Linked DNA regions of Homo sapiens. The protein of the gene in region 3 interacts with the protein of the main gene of each other region in a biochemical or structural test. Each region holds a gene or a part of one and is shown on either strand. Other genes may lie near its edges.

The links. The genes of interacting proteins can lie anywhere in the genome.
Region 1: the proteins of TANC1 (region 3) and FRMPD4 interact in a test that uses a peptide from one of them, tested with the Homo sapiens proteins (one large-scale study listed by IntAct).
Region 2: the proteins of TANC1 (region 3) and PTPN3 interact in a test that uses a peptide from one of them, tested with the Homo sapiens proteins (one large-scale study listed by IntAct).
Region 4: the proteins of TANC1 (region 3) and DLG3 interact in a test that uses a peptide from one of them, tested with the Homo sapiens proteins (one large-scale study listed by IntAct).

What each region holds. Positions count from the first base shown.
Region 1 is NC_000023.11:12,141,437-12,145,916, forward strand, and holds part of FRMPD4 (FERM and PDZ domain-containing protein 4), read left to right. Parts: intron 1-4,480. UniProt on the Homo sapiens protein: Positive regulator of dendritic spine morphogenesis and density. Required for the maintenance of excitatory synaptic transmission. Binds phosphatidylinositol 4,5-bisphosphate.
Region 2 is NC_000009.12:109,406,864-109,411,343, reverse strand, and holds part of PTPN3 (tyrosine-protein phosphatase non-receptor type 3), read left to right. Parts: intron 1-928; coding exon 929-1,115; intron 1,116-1,267; coding exon 1,268-1,345; intron 1,346-2,966; coding exon 2,967-3,023; intron 3,024-4,480.
Region 3 is NC_000002.12:159,177,124-159,182,464, forward strand, and holds part of TANC1 (protein TANC1), read left to right. Parts: intron 1-1,432; coding exon 1,433-2,040; intron 2,041-5,341. UniProt on the Homo sapiens protein: May be a scaffold component in the postsynaptic density.
Region 4 is NC_000023.11:70,496,799-70,501,278, forward strand, and holds part of DLG3 (disks large homolog 3), read left to right. Parts: intron 1-381; coding exon of another isoform or gene 382-423; intron 424-1,721; coding exon 1,722-1,772; intron 1,773-2,377; coding exon 2,378-2,479; intron 2,480-3,078; coding exon 3,079-3,251; intron 3,252-3,672; coding exon 3,673-3,782; intron 3,783-4,099; coding exon 4,100-4,191; intron 4,192-4,480. UniProt on the Homo sapiens protein: Required for learning most likely through its role in synaptic plasticity following NMDA receptor signaling.

The sequences.
Region 1 (4,480 bases), on a different chromosome or scaffold from region 3:
GAATATTATTCGACACTGGAATAAATAAACTGCATATTTTGACTTTTTAGAGTGTCTACATTTAACTATTCGTTTCCAGAATCTATACCCTTTTAATCGTGGGAAAAATCAGAATTGACAGTGCCCCTCAATAACCCAGTACCATTAAAAAAAAATTGCTGCCAAGTGTTGGAATTGCTGGTAAGTAGTTGGCACCCTTTACATCATCAGTTAGAGTTATGACCCTTGATTGCATCCTTCGTGGGTGGCACAGTGTGTCATGGTTCTATCTGAAGATGGTTTTTCCCGTTCTTCTAATTTTCTGGTTCTTAAACTGCTTGATAGTTTACATGCAGTTTTACTTCACTGTTTCCTTGGTAACAGTTCTATATTATTTTCCATCCTTGTAGATGAGAGCATTACAGATGATTGCCTTATAAACCAGTAATAGTATAAAAACAGGCATATATTTTTATTGTTACTGCTCTTTGTATTGACTATTTTATTTGTAAAGCAGATGCATTCTTTCAAATGTTTATAGAAGAATGCAGTCCAGTAGAAAAACATATGATTATGCCCCTTTTGCCAGAGGGAGATGATTTGAGATCCAAAACTCATAGGGATGTTATTAAATTGAGTGATATGTTCATAGATTAAGTCCCTGATTTGGCTTCTTTTCTTTAAGCAAAACGGTAGACTTGATGATAATGATTGAGTCCCCACTGTTGATATGATGATTTCTTATAGTAGTAGGTAAATTTGGGGAATGCTTTACTTTGCATTTTCTTATAGTTGCATGGGTTATTTTGTGGTATATAGCAGTGACTAATATCTAATATTAGAATGCTAATTTTCTTACAAGTATCTTATATTTGAGGAAAAATACAAAATACATATGTATAGTTTCCTTAGATTTTTATGTCAAGTCCATTTAGATACTACTAAACTTCTGTCTTTTACCTTTATCTTATTCAGAATTAAATATTTCCCAGGGAAAAGGGGAAGTTAAAGAAGTAATGCAAAAGGTCAGGGTTTTTCCCATATCCCCTATTTTTACTGAGTAATTGTATTAATATTGCTGATAATAGTGAGCTCTGGAGGCTAGCAATGAAAAAACCCCAAAGACTCTGGATTTGAATTTTATTAAAAATGCTACTTGCTCATCTTCTGAATCCTTTCTAAGTTCTGCTGATTTTTGTGACTGTCAGGAGGTGAAATGATGAACAGTTTCATAACAGAACTAGATTCCTGTTTTAGGAATATTTAACTCTAGTTTCCCAAGAGTTGCTAGTTTGAAGCTGTGAAAGTCTAGTCGCTCGCAGTTCTGGGAAGAAGGCGTCTAGGTCAGGCTTTGTACCATTTCAAGCATCTCTCTCTCTCTCTCTTATTGTCTGGGGCAAGTGAGTTTCACCTTCTTGCTATCAGAATTTGGTACAGACTGACAGCTGCAGTGAAACTTACTTGTACTTTAAATGCATGACCTGGAAAGTCTCACTTTCTGCTTATGGTCCTTCCAGCTGTTCATTCTCCCCCTTTACATACACATACACTGTTCAACTTTAGTACTTTGTTATTTCATTTGAGGTTAACCGTGGAAGTTTAGCTGTAAGAGAATGTACATTATTGGTGAACTAGAAATGTATCTTTAAGGAATGAACTTGAAACCACTGGTTTCACACTTGGCTCAATAAGAAAACTCAAGACCGTTTAAAATCTTTGTTTAAGCATACCGTCCTGAAATCTACCACTGTTACCATCAAATGATCTTTAATCTTGAAAGCTAATCATAGCAGGAAAAGAAAATTATGAATAGGCTAAAACAGGGGTTGGCATACTGTGGCCTATGAGCCAAATCTGGCTTGCTGACTGTTATGGCATAGCCTGTGAGCAAAGAATGGTTTCTTTATTTTTAAATGGTTCAAAAATATCAAAAAAAGAATAATATGAAATTAAAATTTCAGTGTCCATAAATAAAGTTTTATTGGAACACATGTCCATTCATTTATGTATTATCTATGGCTGCATTTGCCTGACAACAGCAAAGTTGAATAGATGCCACAGAGACCTTATGGCCTACAAAGCCTAAAATATTTACTCTCTGGCTCTTTACAGAAAAAGTTAACTGACCCCTGGGTTAAACAATGCCTTTTTCCTGTTTTCTCTTCTTTATCATTAGCAGCACACATGTGGGCACACACATGTCAAATCGAGCATATTATAATAAATACTTGAATTCACTGACCCCTGGGTTAAACAATGCCTTTTCCTGTTTTCGCTTCTTTATCATTATCAGCACACATGCGGGCACACACGTCAAATTGAGCATATTATAATAAATACTTGAATTCACTAATGCACATTACCAGTTAATATAGACCTTATCTTTATTGAAACTTCTGATCTCAAATTACTTCTTGAACTGTTGGAAACTGACCATTAGAAGTGGACATAATTGTCCTACTAATTTGTTGCACTTGGAAAAATTATGCATGCTTATTCTTTGGTCACTAAGTTGACCTGATATTTTTGGGGAGCTGGAGAGTTGCTTGTTAAGGTGATGTTTGCCTTCCATAAATATCCAGTTCAAAATGTATGGAAAAAGAATGGGTGATACTACTTGTATAGCCTCAACCAATGTGTGCTGGTGAACTGATAATCAAGTCAACAGGAGAATGCCTAGTATTTCCTTACAGTACACTTGAGCCATCTGGTCCTAATGGCTAATGACCTTCACTAATCTGTTTCCAAATGGAAATAAAACCAGATAAGTGGATTTAGTTGTAGTCAGAGGAATGGAGGTAGGCTGTATCAATTTGGAGTTGAGTTTAATCTAACTTTCCTATGATTTGACTGAGAGCATTATAATGAGAAATCATAGACTACCTTTAGTTCTTTACAGCAAAAACATATATCAAAAGTATGCTGCCTTGCTTCTGAGTAATTTAGGTCATTATGTACTTAAGCTCTGAAAATTATCTTGAAGAAATCTAAGCCTTAGTTTTAGATAACAAAGTTAACATTCCCATTTTTTTTTTTTTCCTGGCAAAGAGATGAGAAGGGTTTTCTGCCAGAACTGTTCTTTCAGAAATATATTTTCAAGTATGGTTTACAGAATTTGGCATAAGATAAATAGTCTATACTAAATAATTAGTGAGTGAAGTCATATACAATTCATTCTAACATTTGTTGCAAACAAATTGTCATATTTGTTTAGCTGAACAATTACCATGTCAGTACTTCTTTATTGAATATAACGGAATACAATGTACATGTTAAAAGTAAATAGCCTGCTCTTGGACTTGGTCTCAGAGAATAAACTTTTATTTCTGTTTTTACATTTGAAGTATATATATATTATATATATAAAATATAATATATATATTTGGTGATTGATGGTTAAAAAGTCATCAACTTGTATTTCCAAGGAGTCTCTGTTTTACTGCTTTAAGCTCAATAAGCAAAGTTATGATGATATTGAAATGGGTTTTTATAGATGTCAGTAAGTTTTTATTTTAGAAAGTCTTTTTTGAAAGCTAGGAAAACACAATCATTTCTATGAAAGAAATGTTTCCAAAGTTTGAAAATGAAAAGTAATTTCCCTGCAATTACAATTTACTATAGGGTTTTAATTTTTATTTTGGTTATTTTTTATAGGCTTCACAAGTTTTATGAGATTTGCTTAATTGAAAATAAGAACATGATTACCTGACAAAGATGAGGTTCAAAGAAAGCAGTAGGCAAAAGTTCATAAAATTAATGGTAAAATTTTCCTAATGAATGTAGGAATGAGTGTATTTTTCTATTGAACTGGCACAGTTATTTATCTGGTCAGAGACTGGTGTGGGGGAGAACACGCGGCCATCTGGCTGATTCAAGGCTGTTGTATTGATTCAACATTGGATAACATACTGACCATGGTGATTTTACAATGGTTCCTGTAACTGGAGTCCTGGATATTTGTCTCTTTTGAAGTTCACGATCCAAGTCACCGGTCTTTACCCTAGTACAGGAGCAGTTAGCAGTCTCAGCTATACAGTGGTGGAGTCTGGAATTAGTTTTGGTGTAAATCCCAAACATGCCCAACTGAATTGTGGCTCAGGGCGATGTCCTGCTTCATGGCCTAGGGCCAGGGCTGGCAAACTTAACCCATCTGATGTGTTTACTTATTTTAGAAAGCTTTATGACCATTTTTATAAATAAAGTTTTATTTAAACACAGCCATGCCCTTTTGTTTGTATACTGTGGCTGCTCTTGGGAGAGTTGGATAGCTGTGACAGAAACCACATGGCTTGCAAAGCCTAAAATATTTACTCTCTGCCCTTTACATGGGTATTTTACTGTTCTTCTTTGATCTCTCTGCCCAGTACTCAAATTTCCCTTTGGGGCAGTCTGGGTGTCAGCCTTCTTTACTAGCAGGGGGAAGGATGGATATGGTTGGAGATTCACCCTGAACACAGTCACCCTTGCCAGCCCCGCTCTGGGGGACTTAAACTGTCAGCAC
Region 2 (4,480 bases), on a different chromosome or scaffold from region 3:
ACATCGGTCAGGTTTCTGTCTGCTAAGCCGGGGGAAAGCCATGTGACCCTGGGCAAGTTACTCAGCCTCTCCTGACCTCAGCTTCTTCATCTGTGAACTGGGAGTTAGAACAAATGACCACAAAGTTCTGTTCCGTTTTCATCATCTGTAACTCTCTAAGACAGCGCTGTCCAGCAGGACTTCCTGCCGTGGTGAAATGTTCTCTGACTGCACTGTCTCATACGGGAGCCACTGGCCGCATATGGCTAGTGAGCATGTGAAGTATGGCTGGTTTCTTGTCTTAATTTATTTAAATTTAAGTAGCCACATATAACTAGTGGCTACCATACTAGACAGTGCAGCTCCACGATACAGAAGAAACTATATTCGATAGAGGAAAATGTAACAAGATCTCAGCGTGGCAGTTCATGGATGTCACAGGCAAATCATGCCAACTAGGAATAATATAAATTCTCCTGAACGCACAACAACAACAGTCCTGTTTCCTTTGAGGAGGCAAGAGTCCTATGAAGCAGAACCATCCGCAGAAGTGAGACAGAAGGAAAAAAGCTTTCAGAAGGGATGGGCTGTGCATCTGCATGAGCTTGCCTGGCAGAGCCTGGTTCAGTAATGAAACCACCAGAGGAGCTGGACACATTTCCCTGTCACCCTTCTAAAGCAGCGGGGAAGGGAGCAAAGTTTTCAGCAGTTTCCAGATCCACCCTGCCTCCTATCCCTTTTCCCCAAAACCATGTGACAGTGTCTAGGCCAGATGCGGTCAGGGGTGGTCAGTGGGCCCTGGGTGTACTCAAATCCCGCTGACAACCTATGCAGCTGAGGTTCCAGGGAAACATACAGCCCCCAGCTGCCAGGCCCCTACAGTCAGTAGTGTTTGCTCTAATAAAATATTAACCCAGTTATTAATATCTCCTCCTTCCCCATGATGAAGGAGTTTATCCGAGAACAATCCGGCACAAAGCTACCTGACCCAGAAGTCATCCAGTTCTGTGTCTCCATCTTCAAATGCTCCAGGCTCCTGCTCACCTGACGGCGTTGATCAGCAGCTCTTAGATGACTTCCACAGGGTGACCAAAGGGGGCTCCACCGAGGACGCCAGCCAGTACTACTGTGACAAGGTGAGCGAGCGCAGGCAGCCGGGTGATCCACACACCCAGGGCTTCCCGGCCTCTTGTGGGCAGCTGAGTAGCTCTAACTAAATGAAAATATCTTATCACCAACTGCTGGAGAGAGATGTGATGCAAATGACCACTTTCAAACCGTTTTCCAGAATGATAATGGTGACAGCTACTTAGTCTTGATCCGTATCACACCAGATGAAGATGGAAAATTTGGATTTAATCTTAAGGTATGTTGTGTATTTATAAAGGAAGTTTTGTGCTGGGAAGCAATCTTTCAATGAGTTTTTAATTTGCATTACAAATGTGCTGCATTCCTGAGCTACATAAGGAAGTTGGTTCAACCCTCAGAATTGAGAGTTGGGGGTTTTTTTTGTTTTTGTTTGGTTTGAGATATTTGGGGTTTTTTTTGTTTTTTTTTAAAAACTCACTTTATCGCCCAAACCTAGAGTGCAGTGGCACGATCGCAGCTCACTGCAGCGCTGACCTCCCCAGGCTCAGGTGATCCTCCCACCTCAGCTGGGACTATAGGGATGCACCACCATACCCAGCTAATTTTTTTCATATTTTTTGTAGAGATGGGGTTTCACCATGTTGTCCAAGCTGGTCTCAAACACCTGGCAATCTACTCACTTTGGCCTCCCAAAGTGCCGGGATTACAGGCGTGAACCACCGCACCCAGCCTAGAATTGAGAGGTTTTTTTTAATGTGGCCTTAACAGCTGCCGAAGGCCAAGTGCCTGCTCTGTGCCTGGCATTGGCTATCCACTAGATTCATAGCACCTTCTTAAGTTCTGATAACAAGTGGTAAGGTCAGTATTTTTAAACCCATTTTGCAAATGAATACTGAGGTTCCCAGAAATGAGGGCACACAGTTGGCAAACAGATCTACCCACTTCAGGAATGCTATTAAGAGAACCCCTCAGCATTGCTAAAGCTGATAAGAGAAAAACAATTCAAGTTCAACCTGCAGGGCCACCACTCTCCTCCAGGCACCTTTAAGCAGGATCTGCAAACTAAACCCACAGGCCAAATCCCATCTGTTTCTGTAACTAGTTTTTTTGGTAACAGCCACAGCCATTTGTTTACTGGTGGGTTAATGACTGCAGAGTTGAGCAGTTGAATCAGAGCCCTCACTCCCACAAAGCCTCTCTGGCCCTTTACAGAAAACGTTTACTCATCCCTACTCTAGGACAAAGTGAGGGCAGGTGGTCGCCTACCCCCCAGCTGCCATCATGCACAGCCTCATCTGCCCCAGCAGCTGTGTTGAGGACCAGCGCTCACAGGCCAGATGCGCTCACAGGGTGTGCCCCCTTCCCAGGCCTCGCTCGCCTCTGCTGAAAGCCCCTATATATATATATATAAAGCCCATATATATATATATTAAAGCCCATATATATATATAAAGCCCATATATATATATATATATATATTTTTTTTTTTTTTTTAATTATTATAAGTTCTAGGGTACATGTGCACAACGTGCAGGTTTGTTCTAGCAGCACTCGAAGACATGCTGTGGAGTCCCTCTCTGGGGGCATCTGCGTTTTTAAGGAGGAGCTTCTCTCTGAGTGTATCTGTTAGTTCATGGACTGTGGGGATGGCAGAGGGAGGCTTCTGAACAGAGTCCTGGTCAGCCCGCTGGATCCAGAGGGGTCAGGAATTTGTTCCATATTTCTGAAATGACGTGTGATTCGAATCAGTCATAGTGAAGTTTGAAGCCTCCCTGTACCAAAGACTCACATTTATTGGTACCTCCATGTTGTTGATGCTGTGAGCTACTCGTTTTTTTGTTTGTTTGTTTGTTTAACTTAAAAAACTTTGTTTTGTTTTTATTTTAAAATGTTTACAGGGAGGAGTGGATCAAAAGATGCCTCTTGTGGTATCAAGGATAAACCCAGAGTCACCTGTAAGTAAATACATTCCATGTTATTCCTCGTGTTTGTTTGTTTCCCCCTAATTCTAACAGGTTTCTGTTTCTGAGTCCTGTTTCTTTTTTTGCCAGAGCAAAGAATGTGCTTAGATATACATCACCATGTTTTCTATAACCTTGCGGCTCAGTGTGGTCTTTGAAGCCATAGCACCCATGTTACCTGGGACCTCATTAGAAATGCAGCATCTCTGGCCTCAGCTTAGGCCTGCTGAACCGGAATCTGCATTTTTAACAAGAGCCTTGAGTGGTTAGTGTGCATTCAATTTTGAGAAGTCCTTTTCAAGAGAAGGAAACTTAGGCAGTCTGCTGTTCTGCTCACTCTAAGTGGGCACGTGGGCCCTGTGCCTCTTCTCACCATCTTTCCACCAGTGCCCCTTTTGTCATCTGTGTAGGCCTCCTAAGAAGAGCATTTGCTTTGTTTTTCTTTCAAATTTATTTTATTGTTTTTAGGCCAGGCATAGTGGCTCACACCTGTAATCCCAGCACTTTGGGAGGCCGAGGAGGGTGAATCACTTGAGGCCAGGAGTTTGAGACCAACCTGCCTGGCCAACAGGGTGAAACCCATCTCTACAAAAAATACAAAAATTATCTGGGTGTGGTGGCACACAGGTGTGATCCCAGCTACTCAGGAGGCTGAGGCAGGAGAATTCCTTGAACCCAGGAGGCAGAGGTTGCAGTGAGCTGAGATCACGCCGCTGTACTCCAGCCTGAGCGACAGAGTGAGACTCTGTCTCAAAAATAAAATAAATTTATTTTATTGTTTTTAAAATAATATCAAGTAATTTTTTCGTTTAATTTTTTTATTGTGCATACTCAAGGTGTACAACATGATGTCTTGTTATACATATAGTACTGCAGTCAAACAAATTAACATGTTCATCACTTTCCATAGTTAACCTATTTTTCTTTTTTAAGAGACAGGGTCTCGCTCTTGCTCTGTCACCCAGGCTGGAATGCAGTGGTATGATCACTGCAGCCTCAAACTAGGCTCAAGCGATCCTCCTGCCTCTGCCTCCCAAGTCGCTGAGACCACAGGTGTGTCCCACCTCACCTGGCTCCATAGTTACCTTTTAATCATCTGCTTTTTTAAAGCAGTAGGAGTCACTGTGCCTCCTTACAGTGAACCACGTTGGGATTTTACTCTGAGGTAGTCCTTAAGCTCTTGTCATTTAACTTTTGTTACTGTTTACAGTTTCTGTAAATTCAGAAGGCTTTCTTTCCTGTGCTGTTCAATTCATTGCTTCTCTCCATAATGGTTTTTGCCTCTGTTGTGAAGCTTACAAAAGCTTTCACCTTTGCAAGACAGATAAATACTCACCTCTAGCTGGCAAATCATTTCCTAACAGTACATCTAGGAAACAAAAGGCTGGAAATGGTATAGTTATATTATAATAAGTGAAGGTTGACTACCACGGAGAAATGGCTTCAGCAAT
Region 3 (5,341 bases):
GGTCTCCAACTCCTGACCTCAGGTGATCCACCCACCTTGGCCTCCCAAAGTGCTGGGATTACAGGCATGAGCCACTGTGCCTGGCTGAAGGTGAAACATTTTTAAGGCCTATTCCCAGAGGTCTATTTTTTCACAAAACTTAAGCATGAGGTAACATTTGCAGCGAGGGGTAGGGTGATTTTTTTTTTCTCCTCCATCTTCTTCCTCACTTAAACCCTGAAATTGTGTCTTAACCATTGACTCCTTCTATACCTATCCTTTTTCAGTGAAGACTTTTAGACATTAGGTTTTGATTTTTGCCCTTTTATGATATTTATTTAAAAACAGCATTTGGAATTTTTTCATTATAAAAACTGAAATTAGACCTCAGTTGAACTTGATGCGTGTTTTTTGGACATTCAGTTTGTATATTTTTCAGTCATTTTTTACATAGTAAGCACAATTTGTCCATCAGTAGATCATAGGAACCAGGAATCTTACGTTCTTCTTCCCAGCTGTGTAAGTTTTCAGAGCTTCAGATAGCATCCATGTAAAATGGGAATAATTGTATTCTGCCCTCTTTATCTACATTGTTATATTAAATGAGCACGTGCATTTAAATACTTCAGAAACAATAGTGGGAAGTCTTTTTAAAAAGGCAAAACTCTTCTTTGCTTTTAGGTGTCAGATGTGCTTAATCTTTGGAATGGGGAAGAGATGGGAAGGGCACATGAGGCTTCTGGGAGCTGAGGATGTTTTGTTTCTGGGTGCTGGTTACATAGGTATATTTGACTTAGTGAAAATTAGTGACACTGTGCAATTGTCATTTGTACACAAATCATATGTTCATTGTTAGACTTCAATTTAAAAGTTTACTTTAAAAAAGCAATTCATAAAATAACGTGCTATACCAAAGTAGGCAGCTTTGTTAAGATGCGCTGTCGTTGAGACACAGCCCAGGGGCAGACTCAGATTTCCTGATTGGGTTACACAGCCCCAGTGTTTGCTGCATAAAGAAGGATGTCTTTTATCTTGGCGTCTGGCCGTGTTCTTAGATGTGCAGTGTTGGTTGGTGTTTGTCCTTGTTATATAAGCAGTTTCACAGTGTAAGGATTATGGGTATCAGGTCACCTGCAGAGTCTCACTGCCCTTACTGGCCCTGGCCTCGTTGCCGCTGTCTGCACAGGGCTCTTACTCTGCTTGCTAGGCTCAGGGTCCTTGGATGAGGGCCTCAGGATAGCACTTACTGATTCCATCTCCCATCAGGATTTCTTTCACATAAGCTTTTTATCTTCACCTTATCCTATTACACGTTTTAATACAAAACAATGAGTCCCTGTAATCCATGAAAATCCTCCTTGAAACAAAACTAGTGAATCTGGTTTAAAATGCTGTTAAAATAAAAAAGGAATCTCTTTAGAGTGACACTGTGGGTTTTTGTTTTCTCCCCCAGGAAATCATAAGTGCGCTGCCATTTGTCAAGCTTTCCTTAGATGACTTCCCAGACAACAAAGACATCCACAGTGACCTGCACGCCTACGTCCAGCACAGGGTGCACAGCAGCCAGGACATCCTCAGCAACATCTCCCTGAATGGCAAGGCCGATGCCACACTCATTGGAAAAGTGAGCAGCCACCTGGTGCTGCGGAGCCTCGGCTCCTACCTGTACCTCAAGCTCACCCTGGACCTTTTCCAGAGGGGCCACTTGGTCATTAAGAGTGCCAGCTACAAGGTGGTGCCCGTGTCTCTCTCTGAGCTCTATTTGCTTCAGTGCAACATGAAGTTCATGACCCAGTCCGCCTTTGAGAGGGCACTTCCGATTCTCAACGTGGCCCTCGCATCCCTCCACCCCATGACAGACGAGCAGATCTTTCAGGCTATTAATGCTGGCCACATCCAGGGGGAGCAGGGATGGGAAGACTTTCAGCAGAGGATGGACGCCCTCTCCTGCTTCCTCATTAAGAGGCGAGACAAAACCCGCATGTTCTGCCACCCGTCCTTCAGGGAGTGGCTTGTATGGAGAGCAGACGGGGAAAACACGGCCTTCCTGTGTGAGCCCAGGTACGGCAGGCGCTTTCTTTCAGCTCTTTGCAGGGAATCTCGTGTGCAGTTGGGGAAAGGATTTAAATGTGATGCACGTGTCTCAATGGAAGGGCAATCCAGAATGACTAATTCAGTGTTACTGCTTTGTTTTATTATTTTTCTTCCTTTTTGGCAGAAGGATGGGCAATGGGGAATTCTCTATACAGAAGCTGCCTTCTAATTGCTAGGACTCCCTTATGGATGGTACATGTGGATAAAAGAGAAGCTGGGTGGTGCCTGTGTGGTCCTTCCTTACTGTCCATTGTCTCATGGAGCCCCGTCTCCTCCCCCACCCAGCTTCTGCAGGATCATGCATGGGAATGTGTGAGATCAGCCCCTGGGAACAGGGGGCTTCTCTAGAGGGAGTTCCCTGTGTGTCTGCAGACTGTCATGGGTCCTCAGCACCTCCACTCCCCTGCCACCCCTTGAACATGGAGTGACTTGTCCCAGGGATCAGGTATATCTGTGAGCCCAGAGGGAGCACCATGATCCAATCTAGCCTCCCCGCTCCACACCCTTCACCCTTTGTGGATGAGCTCTGTGTGGTGGACTGGACCAGGCTGGGATGCAGTTCTCCTTGCTGCCTGGGCCGCTGTTATCACAGTGGGATGGGGAAGGAAGCCTGTCTGCTGTGTGGCTTGGTAACAGTGTGAGAGGTCAGAAAGTTTGAGGATGCAGATGCGTTCAGATATGTATATGGCAAGCCCCCAACTTCCACTTGGCCCTGGCTTTGGCCTGTGTCTCTGCTGTCTCGAGTGGCTTCGGCTATCTGTGAGCCAGAATTGCCCCCTGCTGTAGTAACAGGGCTGGCAAGCTGCTCAGCTGACCCCTTAGGCATTTGACCAGATGCTGGGATCCAGAAATGAAGAGGTGAACAAGCATTGGTGAGCCCTGGGAGCCTCACAGCCACTTTCCTCCCTGTGAATATTGACTGAACATCCACCTGATAGGCCTGGCTGCTGTTCATGTTGGGGCTGTTATTATTTTCTTCAGTAACACTGGCTGAAGGTTTGTTGTTATCTTTTGAACCTGGTTTGGGGCAATAAACTAACATCCAGGTTATTTAGCCAGACCATAATAGCTAGGTGAAACATGTGCTGTGACATTTCTAGCCAAGTCAGATTACTTTCTAGGGAAATTCCAGTCATTTTCTAGGAAGATTGACTATAGCTGAGTTTGTAGAGACATAAAAACAAATTGAAAGACTCCATCAGGAGTGTAGGTTGTTACTGGGTTGGAGGCTAAAGTGGCTGGACTGTAGTCTTCATTAAGCTTCGCTTCATTTTGGGTATTGGTGGGCATTGAGGTTATGTAGCCTAGGTCAGAGCTAGGGTGGGTGCCTGTGGGCTCCTGAATGCCACTGTGTTCTTAAAAGCAGGCATGGGGACATCCCCTGGGGCAGGACCTGGACTAGGTGGAGGCAAGAGAGGTACCAAGGGTGCAGAATTTAAGGAAGCACCCACTCCTGGGTGGTGCGAGTTGTTGCCATTTTCCCAAGACACCTGTAGTATTTGAGCTTCATTCAATTGAGAGGATATAGAACAATGTTGGAAGGAAGCTACTGGATTCAGTTCAGCAACAGTTTTTGTTATATGCAGTTATGTGCAAAGTACTGTGGCAGACACCAATTGTTGGGACAAGGACCCTGCTCTCAGGGCTTCCCACACAGGGCAGGGGAGGCAGGAGGTGATATGCGAGAGGGAGGCACACTTCATGTGGACCTCACAAGAGGGAGAAGCTCCCAGCGTAAGTAAAGGGGCCTGGGGAGGTGATTTTAAAACATGGTGATGGTGGGTTGGGCCTCGAAAAATGGTAGCATTTCTTCCCCAACTCCCAGTTGTCGTATTTTTGCCCTAATTATAAAAGCAGAAAATTTCAACCCTCAGACAAAGACAGTTCATTTTTTATTTCTGCCTCTTTCTGTAGCATTTTAAATGATATACCAATCTTCTTTTTCTCTTGGAATTCTTATCTGGGTTTTTGCTTAACACATCACGGGCACCTTACTAAGCTGTTAGAAGTCTTAGAAAAGTGTCATTTTCATTTTTCATGGTTGTGCAAAACTCCTAGGAGGCAAATTATTATGTACTTCACTATACCCTCATTGGATTTTTTTGCTTTTTTTTTTTTTCAGACGGAGTCTCGCTGTCGCCCAGGCTAGAGTGCAGTGGTGTGATCTCAGCTCACTGCAGGCTCCGCCCCCTGGGGTTCACACCATTCTCCTGCCTCAGCCTTCCCACGTAGCTGGGACTACAGGCGCCCGCCACCTCATCCGGCTAACTTTTTGTATTTTTAGTAGAGACGGGGTTTCACCGTGTTAGCCAGGATGGTCTCAATCTCCTGACCTCGTGATCCGCCCGCCTCGGCCTCCCAGAGTGCTGGGATTACAGGCGTGAGCCACTGCGCCCGGCCCCCTCGTTAGATTTTTAAGTTGTTTCTAAATTACTTACAAACAGAACAACCTGTCATGTCTTGGTGCCTTGCAGGTCTGGATTCAAATCTTCCATTGATTCTTGTATATTTTTCTCTGCATGAAATATATTTTAATTCTCCATGCCTTCCTTCCTTATCTATAAAAAATGAGTGTCTTCTCACTGAGTGCTGGTAGCTATTAAATCAGATCTTAAGACGATGTACTACCTCTCTTCTTTCCTTTCTTCTCTCTTAGTTTTGATTATGCCCTAGGTTAGCATTCCAGAAATAGAATTATGAAGATAAAGAATAGTTTGAGTCTGGCCGGGTGCGGTGGCTTACGTGCGTAATCCTAGCACTTTGGGAGGCAGAGATGGGTGGATCACCTGAGGTCAGGGGTTCGAGACCAGCCTGGCCAACATGGTGAACCCAGTCTCTACTAAAAATACAAAAAAAAGAAAAATTAGCCGGGTGTGGTGGCAAGCACCTGTAATCCCAGCTGCTTGGGAGGCTGAGGTAGGAGAATTGCTTGAACCCAGGAGGCGAAGGTTGCAGTGAGTCGAGATCGTGCCACTACACTCCAGCCTGGGCAACAAGAACAAAACTGTCTCAAAAAAAAAGAAAGAGTTTTCATTCATATCACCTAGACTTAAACATATTTACATTTTGCAATATTTGCTACATCTGTTTCCTTTTTTTTTGTTGAAGTATGTTAAATTGTAAACATGACATTTTACTTTAAATAACTGAATATTCATCTTAGAGATATTTTCATACTTAACCACGCTATTACTGCACCTAAAATATTAATGCAAATTCTTAATAATCTTAAACATTTAGCCATGCTCAAATTTCTATTTTTTAGTAT
Region 4 (4,480 bases), on a different chromosome or scaffold from region 3:
GGTCCCTGGACTTCTCTTTGCTCCTGTCACTGTCTTTTCTTTCCTGTTGTTAGCCTTGGGAGATGCATTTTGAAATACGATTTGGAAACCATCCAGGTCAATTTGATTCAGATGAAGAGGATGCTGCTGAAGGAAGTATGGCTTGTAGTACATAGGGAGGGACTTGGCAGACCAAGAGGGCTCTGGGGACAAGTACGAGAGGGCCAGGGGCTCAGGATTGGAGCTGTGCCTCCCAGTTGGTAGCCTGGATGTGGCAGGCCTCTGGTGGCCTGACTCAGTTGGCAGCTCAGTGTCTCGCTCCTGGAGCATTTGAGTTTTGTGCTGCATGTGACCTCTCAGTGGTGTGTTCTGAATTGGAGTCTCTTTCTTGTTGGCTTGCAGAGGGAGTGACATCCAACACCAGTGACAGCGAAAGCAGTTCCAGTAAGTGTGTGTCATTCCTTCCATGTCGTGTAGCTCCACTGTGTATCCCAGCCATCCTCATTCCAGTGTTGCACAGCTGCCATTGCTGCTCAGAGGCTGGTGCTTCTTTTAGCCATGTACACTTTGAGATCCTAGAAATGCTGTGGCCAGTTCATTCTCCTTATGGGTTGGGGTTCACCCCATGGATTAAAGGAGAGTATAAGCCCTATAGTGCTGGCCGGGACCTGACTTAAAAGCATCCCTGGCACTGGGAAGGGTAAACTGCCAAAGAGTAAATCCCTGCCATGGGTACTGTGGGCCATAGGTGCTGCCAGGTTTATAGATTTGCTCAGAGACCAAAAGAAAAATGGCTCCTCTAGGACACTGCCCTAAATCTGCCTTTCCAGGTCATTAGGACCTCTTTGCCTTTGGGGCCAGTTAAAGGATGAGGTAATTGCCAAGTTCTCCTTGGGAGATCCTGTGACCAGACCAGAGAAACCGTAATTCAAACCTCATGAACTTTGGGAGCACTGGTTTTTCAGGAGCTATGGTGGCTAGAAGCCTTGTAAAATCTGCCCAGGAATATTAGGCTCAGAAGAAGCCTTTTAGCAAGCATTGTGTGCCTTGATGCAAATATCACTGTTTTCCCTGGGACTGCCATCAGCCACTTTGGGACCTCCAGGCACCCAGCACCGAGTGGCTTGACGACTGTTTTAGGAAAACCTCAACATTGCTAGGCTCGACATGGGGCTCCACCAGGAAGAGACAGCAGGTTCAGCATTGCTCTTAAAGGGCACTGGGGACCTTAGCAGAGCCATGTGCCACTTTTCTGGATGCTGCTTCCAATGCAGGAGGTGGGTTGGTAGACCTTTAAAAGGGCAAAGTTAGGCTGCTTGGGGACCTGGGTGTGTGCCCTGACTCCCCTGCATGTTGATGAAGGGGACTCGGGCAAGCATCTCAACCAGTCAAAGTGTCCCTGTCATTCTTACCAGAGCAAGGGGGCTACTGCACACAGCTGACTTGTTACCTACAAGAAGAGTTCCTCACAAATTGGGGTGGTTTGGGGTGGAGGCTTCATGGCTTCTGGGCCTTGGCCCTTTGCCCAGTGATATTTCACTGAACAAGAGAACTGCTGACTCCTGTCTCAGAGCCAGTGAAGGGTTTCATGTGCTTTCTCACCAGCAGAAAACAGAAAGGATCACAGGTGGTGGCAAGGACCACCTGATAAGGCTGTGTCCTGGCAGGGGAGGGGTACGGGGAGTACTGTACAGAAGGAGGCAGATCATATGGTGCTAACCTATCTCTCTTTTTTGTTGCAGAAGGACAAGAGGATGCTATTTTGTCATATGAGCCAGTGACACGGCAAGAAAGTAAGCCTCCTCTGAGAGCCTTGTCTTCGTGCTGGTCTCCTGGTCGTGGGGCTCAATACAGTGGGTGGCTGTGGCAGCAGAGGGAGGGACCTGGAGGAGGAGGAAGGCTTGACTCATGGCACATCCAGCCCCTGGGCTCCTTCTTCTCTATGCTTCTTCCTAGTGTCATAGGGAAGGGGGTGCATCCAGTGTGCACTTCTCTCTGTGCCTTTGCCTGCTGCCAGGACACCTTCCAAAGGAGGGGGCAAATTTACAAGGAAAGTCTATTTCAGTAGATGTAGCCACTGCTAAAAGAGAGGTCCAGGTTCTTCCCTTCAGTGGCTGCTCTGCAAAAACCTTGCTCAGTTACTGGTGTCAGTGCAGAGATTTTTTCTGACTCTGTTAGAAGGGGAGCAGCTTCCGGTTTCAGACTTGCCTTGAACTTAGATATTCTCAAATTAAAGGCTCTTTGATGTCTTTCTGTTTAAAAGCCAGACAATGTCTGAGGATGCTTTACCCTGTCTGAGTCTCTGCTCCAGAGCCTCTGTGTTCTAGCCAGACTCAGGGGTAGGACAGGCTGTCTGGTGGGGGCCTCTGTTCACTGTCTCGATGCTCTCCCTCTCTAGTTCACTATGCAAGGCCTGTGATCATCCTGGGCCCAATGAAGGACCGAGTCAATGATGACCTGATCTCCGAATTTCCACATAAATTTGGATCCTGTGTGCCACGTAAGAGTCCAGGAAGGCCCAGAGGAGTGAGGCTTGGTGCCCTGGGAATTGTTGCTCTAATGTTTTATGGAAAAGGTCTGGGATCAGATTCTAGGGCTATTTGGGGACAGGGTACATTTGACACGCTGGAAAACAGTAGGTGGCAATATATTCCCCAAAAGCTGATGGGGTTGGAGAGATTAAGCCATCAGGCTTGGCTGCTCACTCTTGAGGGGAAGTTTCAGTGGTGATGGTTGAGAATGATTGGACAAATACGGAGGCCCAGCCAAAGTGGTGTTGATGTGACTCCATTAACAGTTTGTTAGGTTCACTGTCTCCTCTACCAAGTTTGGCACCCTCTGCCATGCTTTAGCTCAGGAAACCCCACCTTTCTAGTCCAGTTTAAGCTAAAGCAAATAGCCCCCTGTGTGAGACCTGGAGATTGGAAGAGAAGTAGGCCAGACAAACCGCTTCCCAACTGCTTGTTTTCTCCCACTTACTTGAAAAAAAAAATGGAGTGGCCCAGTGACCCACCCAGATGAGAATGGACCAGTCAGTATTTTTTGGTTTGGGGCGGATCACTGCCCCTGGGCCACAAAGCATTTCCTTTCTTCCTTCAGATACTACCCGGCCTCGACGTGATAATGAGGTGGATGGACAAGACTACCACTTTGTGGTGTCCCGAGAACAAATGGAGAAAGATATTCAGGACAACAAGTTCATCGAGGCGGGCCAATTTAATGATAACCTCTATGGGACCAGCATCCAGTCAGTGCGGGCAGTTGCAGAGAGGGTAAGTGTACAGGAGATGGCCTCAAAGGGGAGGCCAATGCTTATGCCAAGGTTCCACTTGGATCCTTATCCTTCCAACACAGGAGCTGCCCAACAGTGCTGCTGACCAAAGCCATAGCACATCTGCATACTCCCAGCGCCTTGACGAAGCTATCTGTCTCCTTCATACAACTCACCCCAGAGCATTACCCAACAGGGAATAGGGGGCCCTGGACAGATGTGGCCTTTTCTGGGTAATAGGAGCAAAAAGTAGGGCCTGTCTACTTCAGAGATCGAATTTCTTAGGCCACTTTGGGTGGCCCTCGTGCCCCTCCCCTCACCCCCACCCCCGGCCAAGGTGGATGTTTAGAATGTCACTGGATTTCTGCTTGGGACTTGGTGAATAGGGAGTGGCTGGGCTGTTACAATCTCTGCTTTTTCAGGGCAAGCACTGCATCTTAGATGTTTCCGGCAATGCTATCAAGAGACTGCAGCAAGCACAACTTTACCCCATTGCCATTTTCATCAAGCCCAAGTCCATTGAAGCCCTTATGTAAGTGTTGAACTGAGAACTCAGACACACCAAGCTAAGATCGGGTCTGGAAGGGAAATGGAGAAGAAAGTGATTTGCTGGGCAGAAACTTGAAAGAAACTCTGTGCCCCAGCTCTGGTCACTGGGCGCTCCTGTTTTGAGGGCTTGTGCATATGTTCATGGTTGGACTTTTGAACGCAGGTTTGAGGAGTTAGCTACGGGCCACTGCTGCTCTGAGAGGGCAGCTTAGCAGATTTTTAGGGATCCTGGAATAATCCTTTATGGTTAATCAGAACATAAGATCTGGTTCAGAACTATTTTTCTTCTGTCTTTGGCAGGGAAATGAACCGAAGGCAGACATATGAACAAGCAAATAAGATCTATGACAAAGCCATGAAACTGGAGCAGGAATTTGGAGAGTACTTTACAGGTAAGACTCCTGCTGCCCTGCGGGGGGTTCTGGGGAACTAGCCAGGTACCTGTTTCTATAAGTGTCTCAAAGAGGTGTAGACAGAATGTAGAAACCTTGCACGGAGTTTCCAGTTGCTTTTAAGTTTTTGAGCACAAACCTTTCCAAAGCACACAAGTTCCCCGTGTCCAGCCATAGCAGTTCAGCCAGTTTATAGCATAAACCACTCACCAAATGCTTCCTTGAATTGTTGGTTTGTTCATTTTGTCTTGTCCTTACTAGATTGTAGGCTCCCTGTATTACTCTGTCT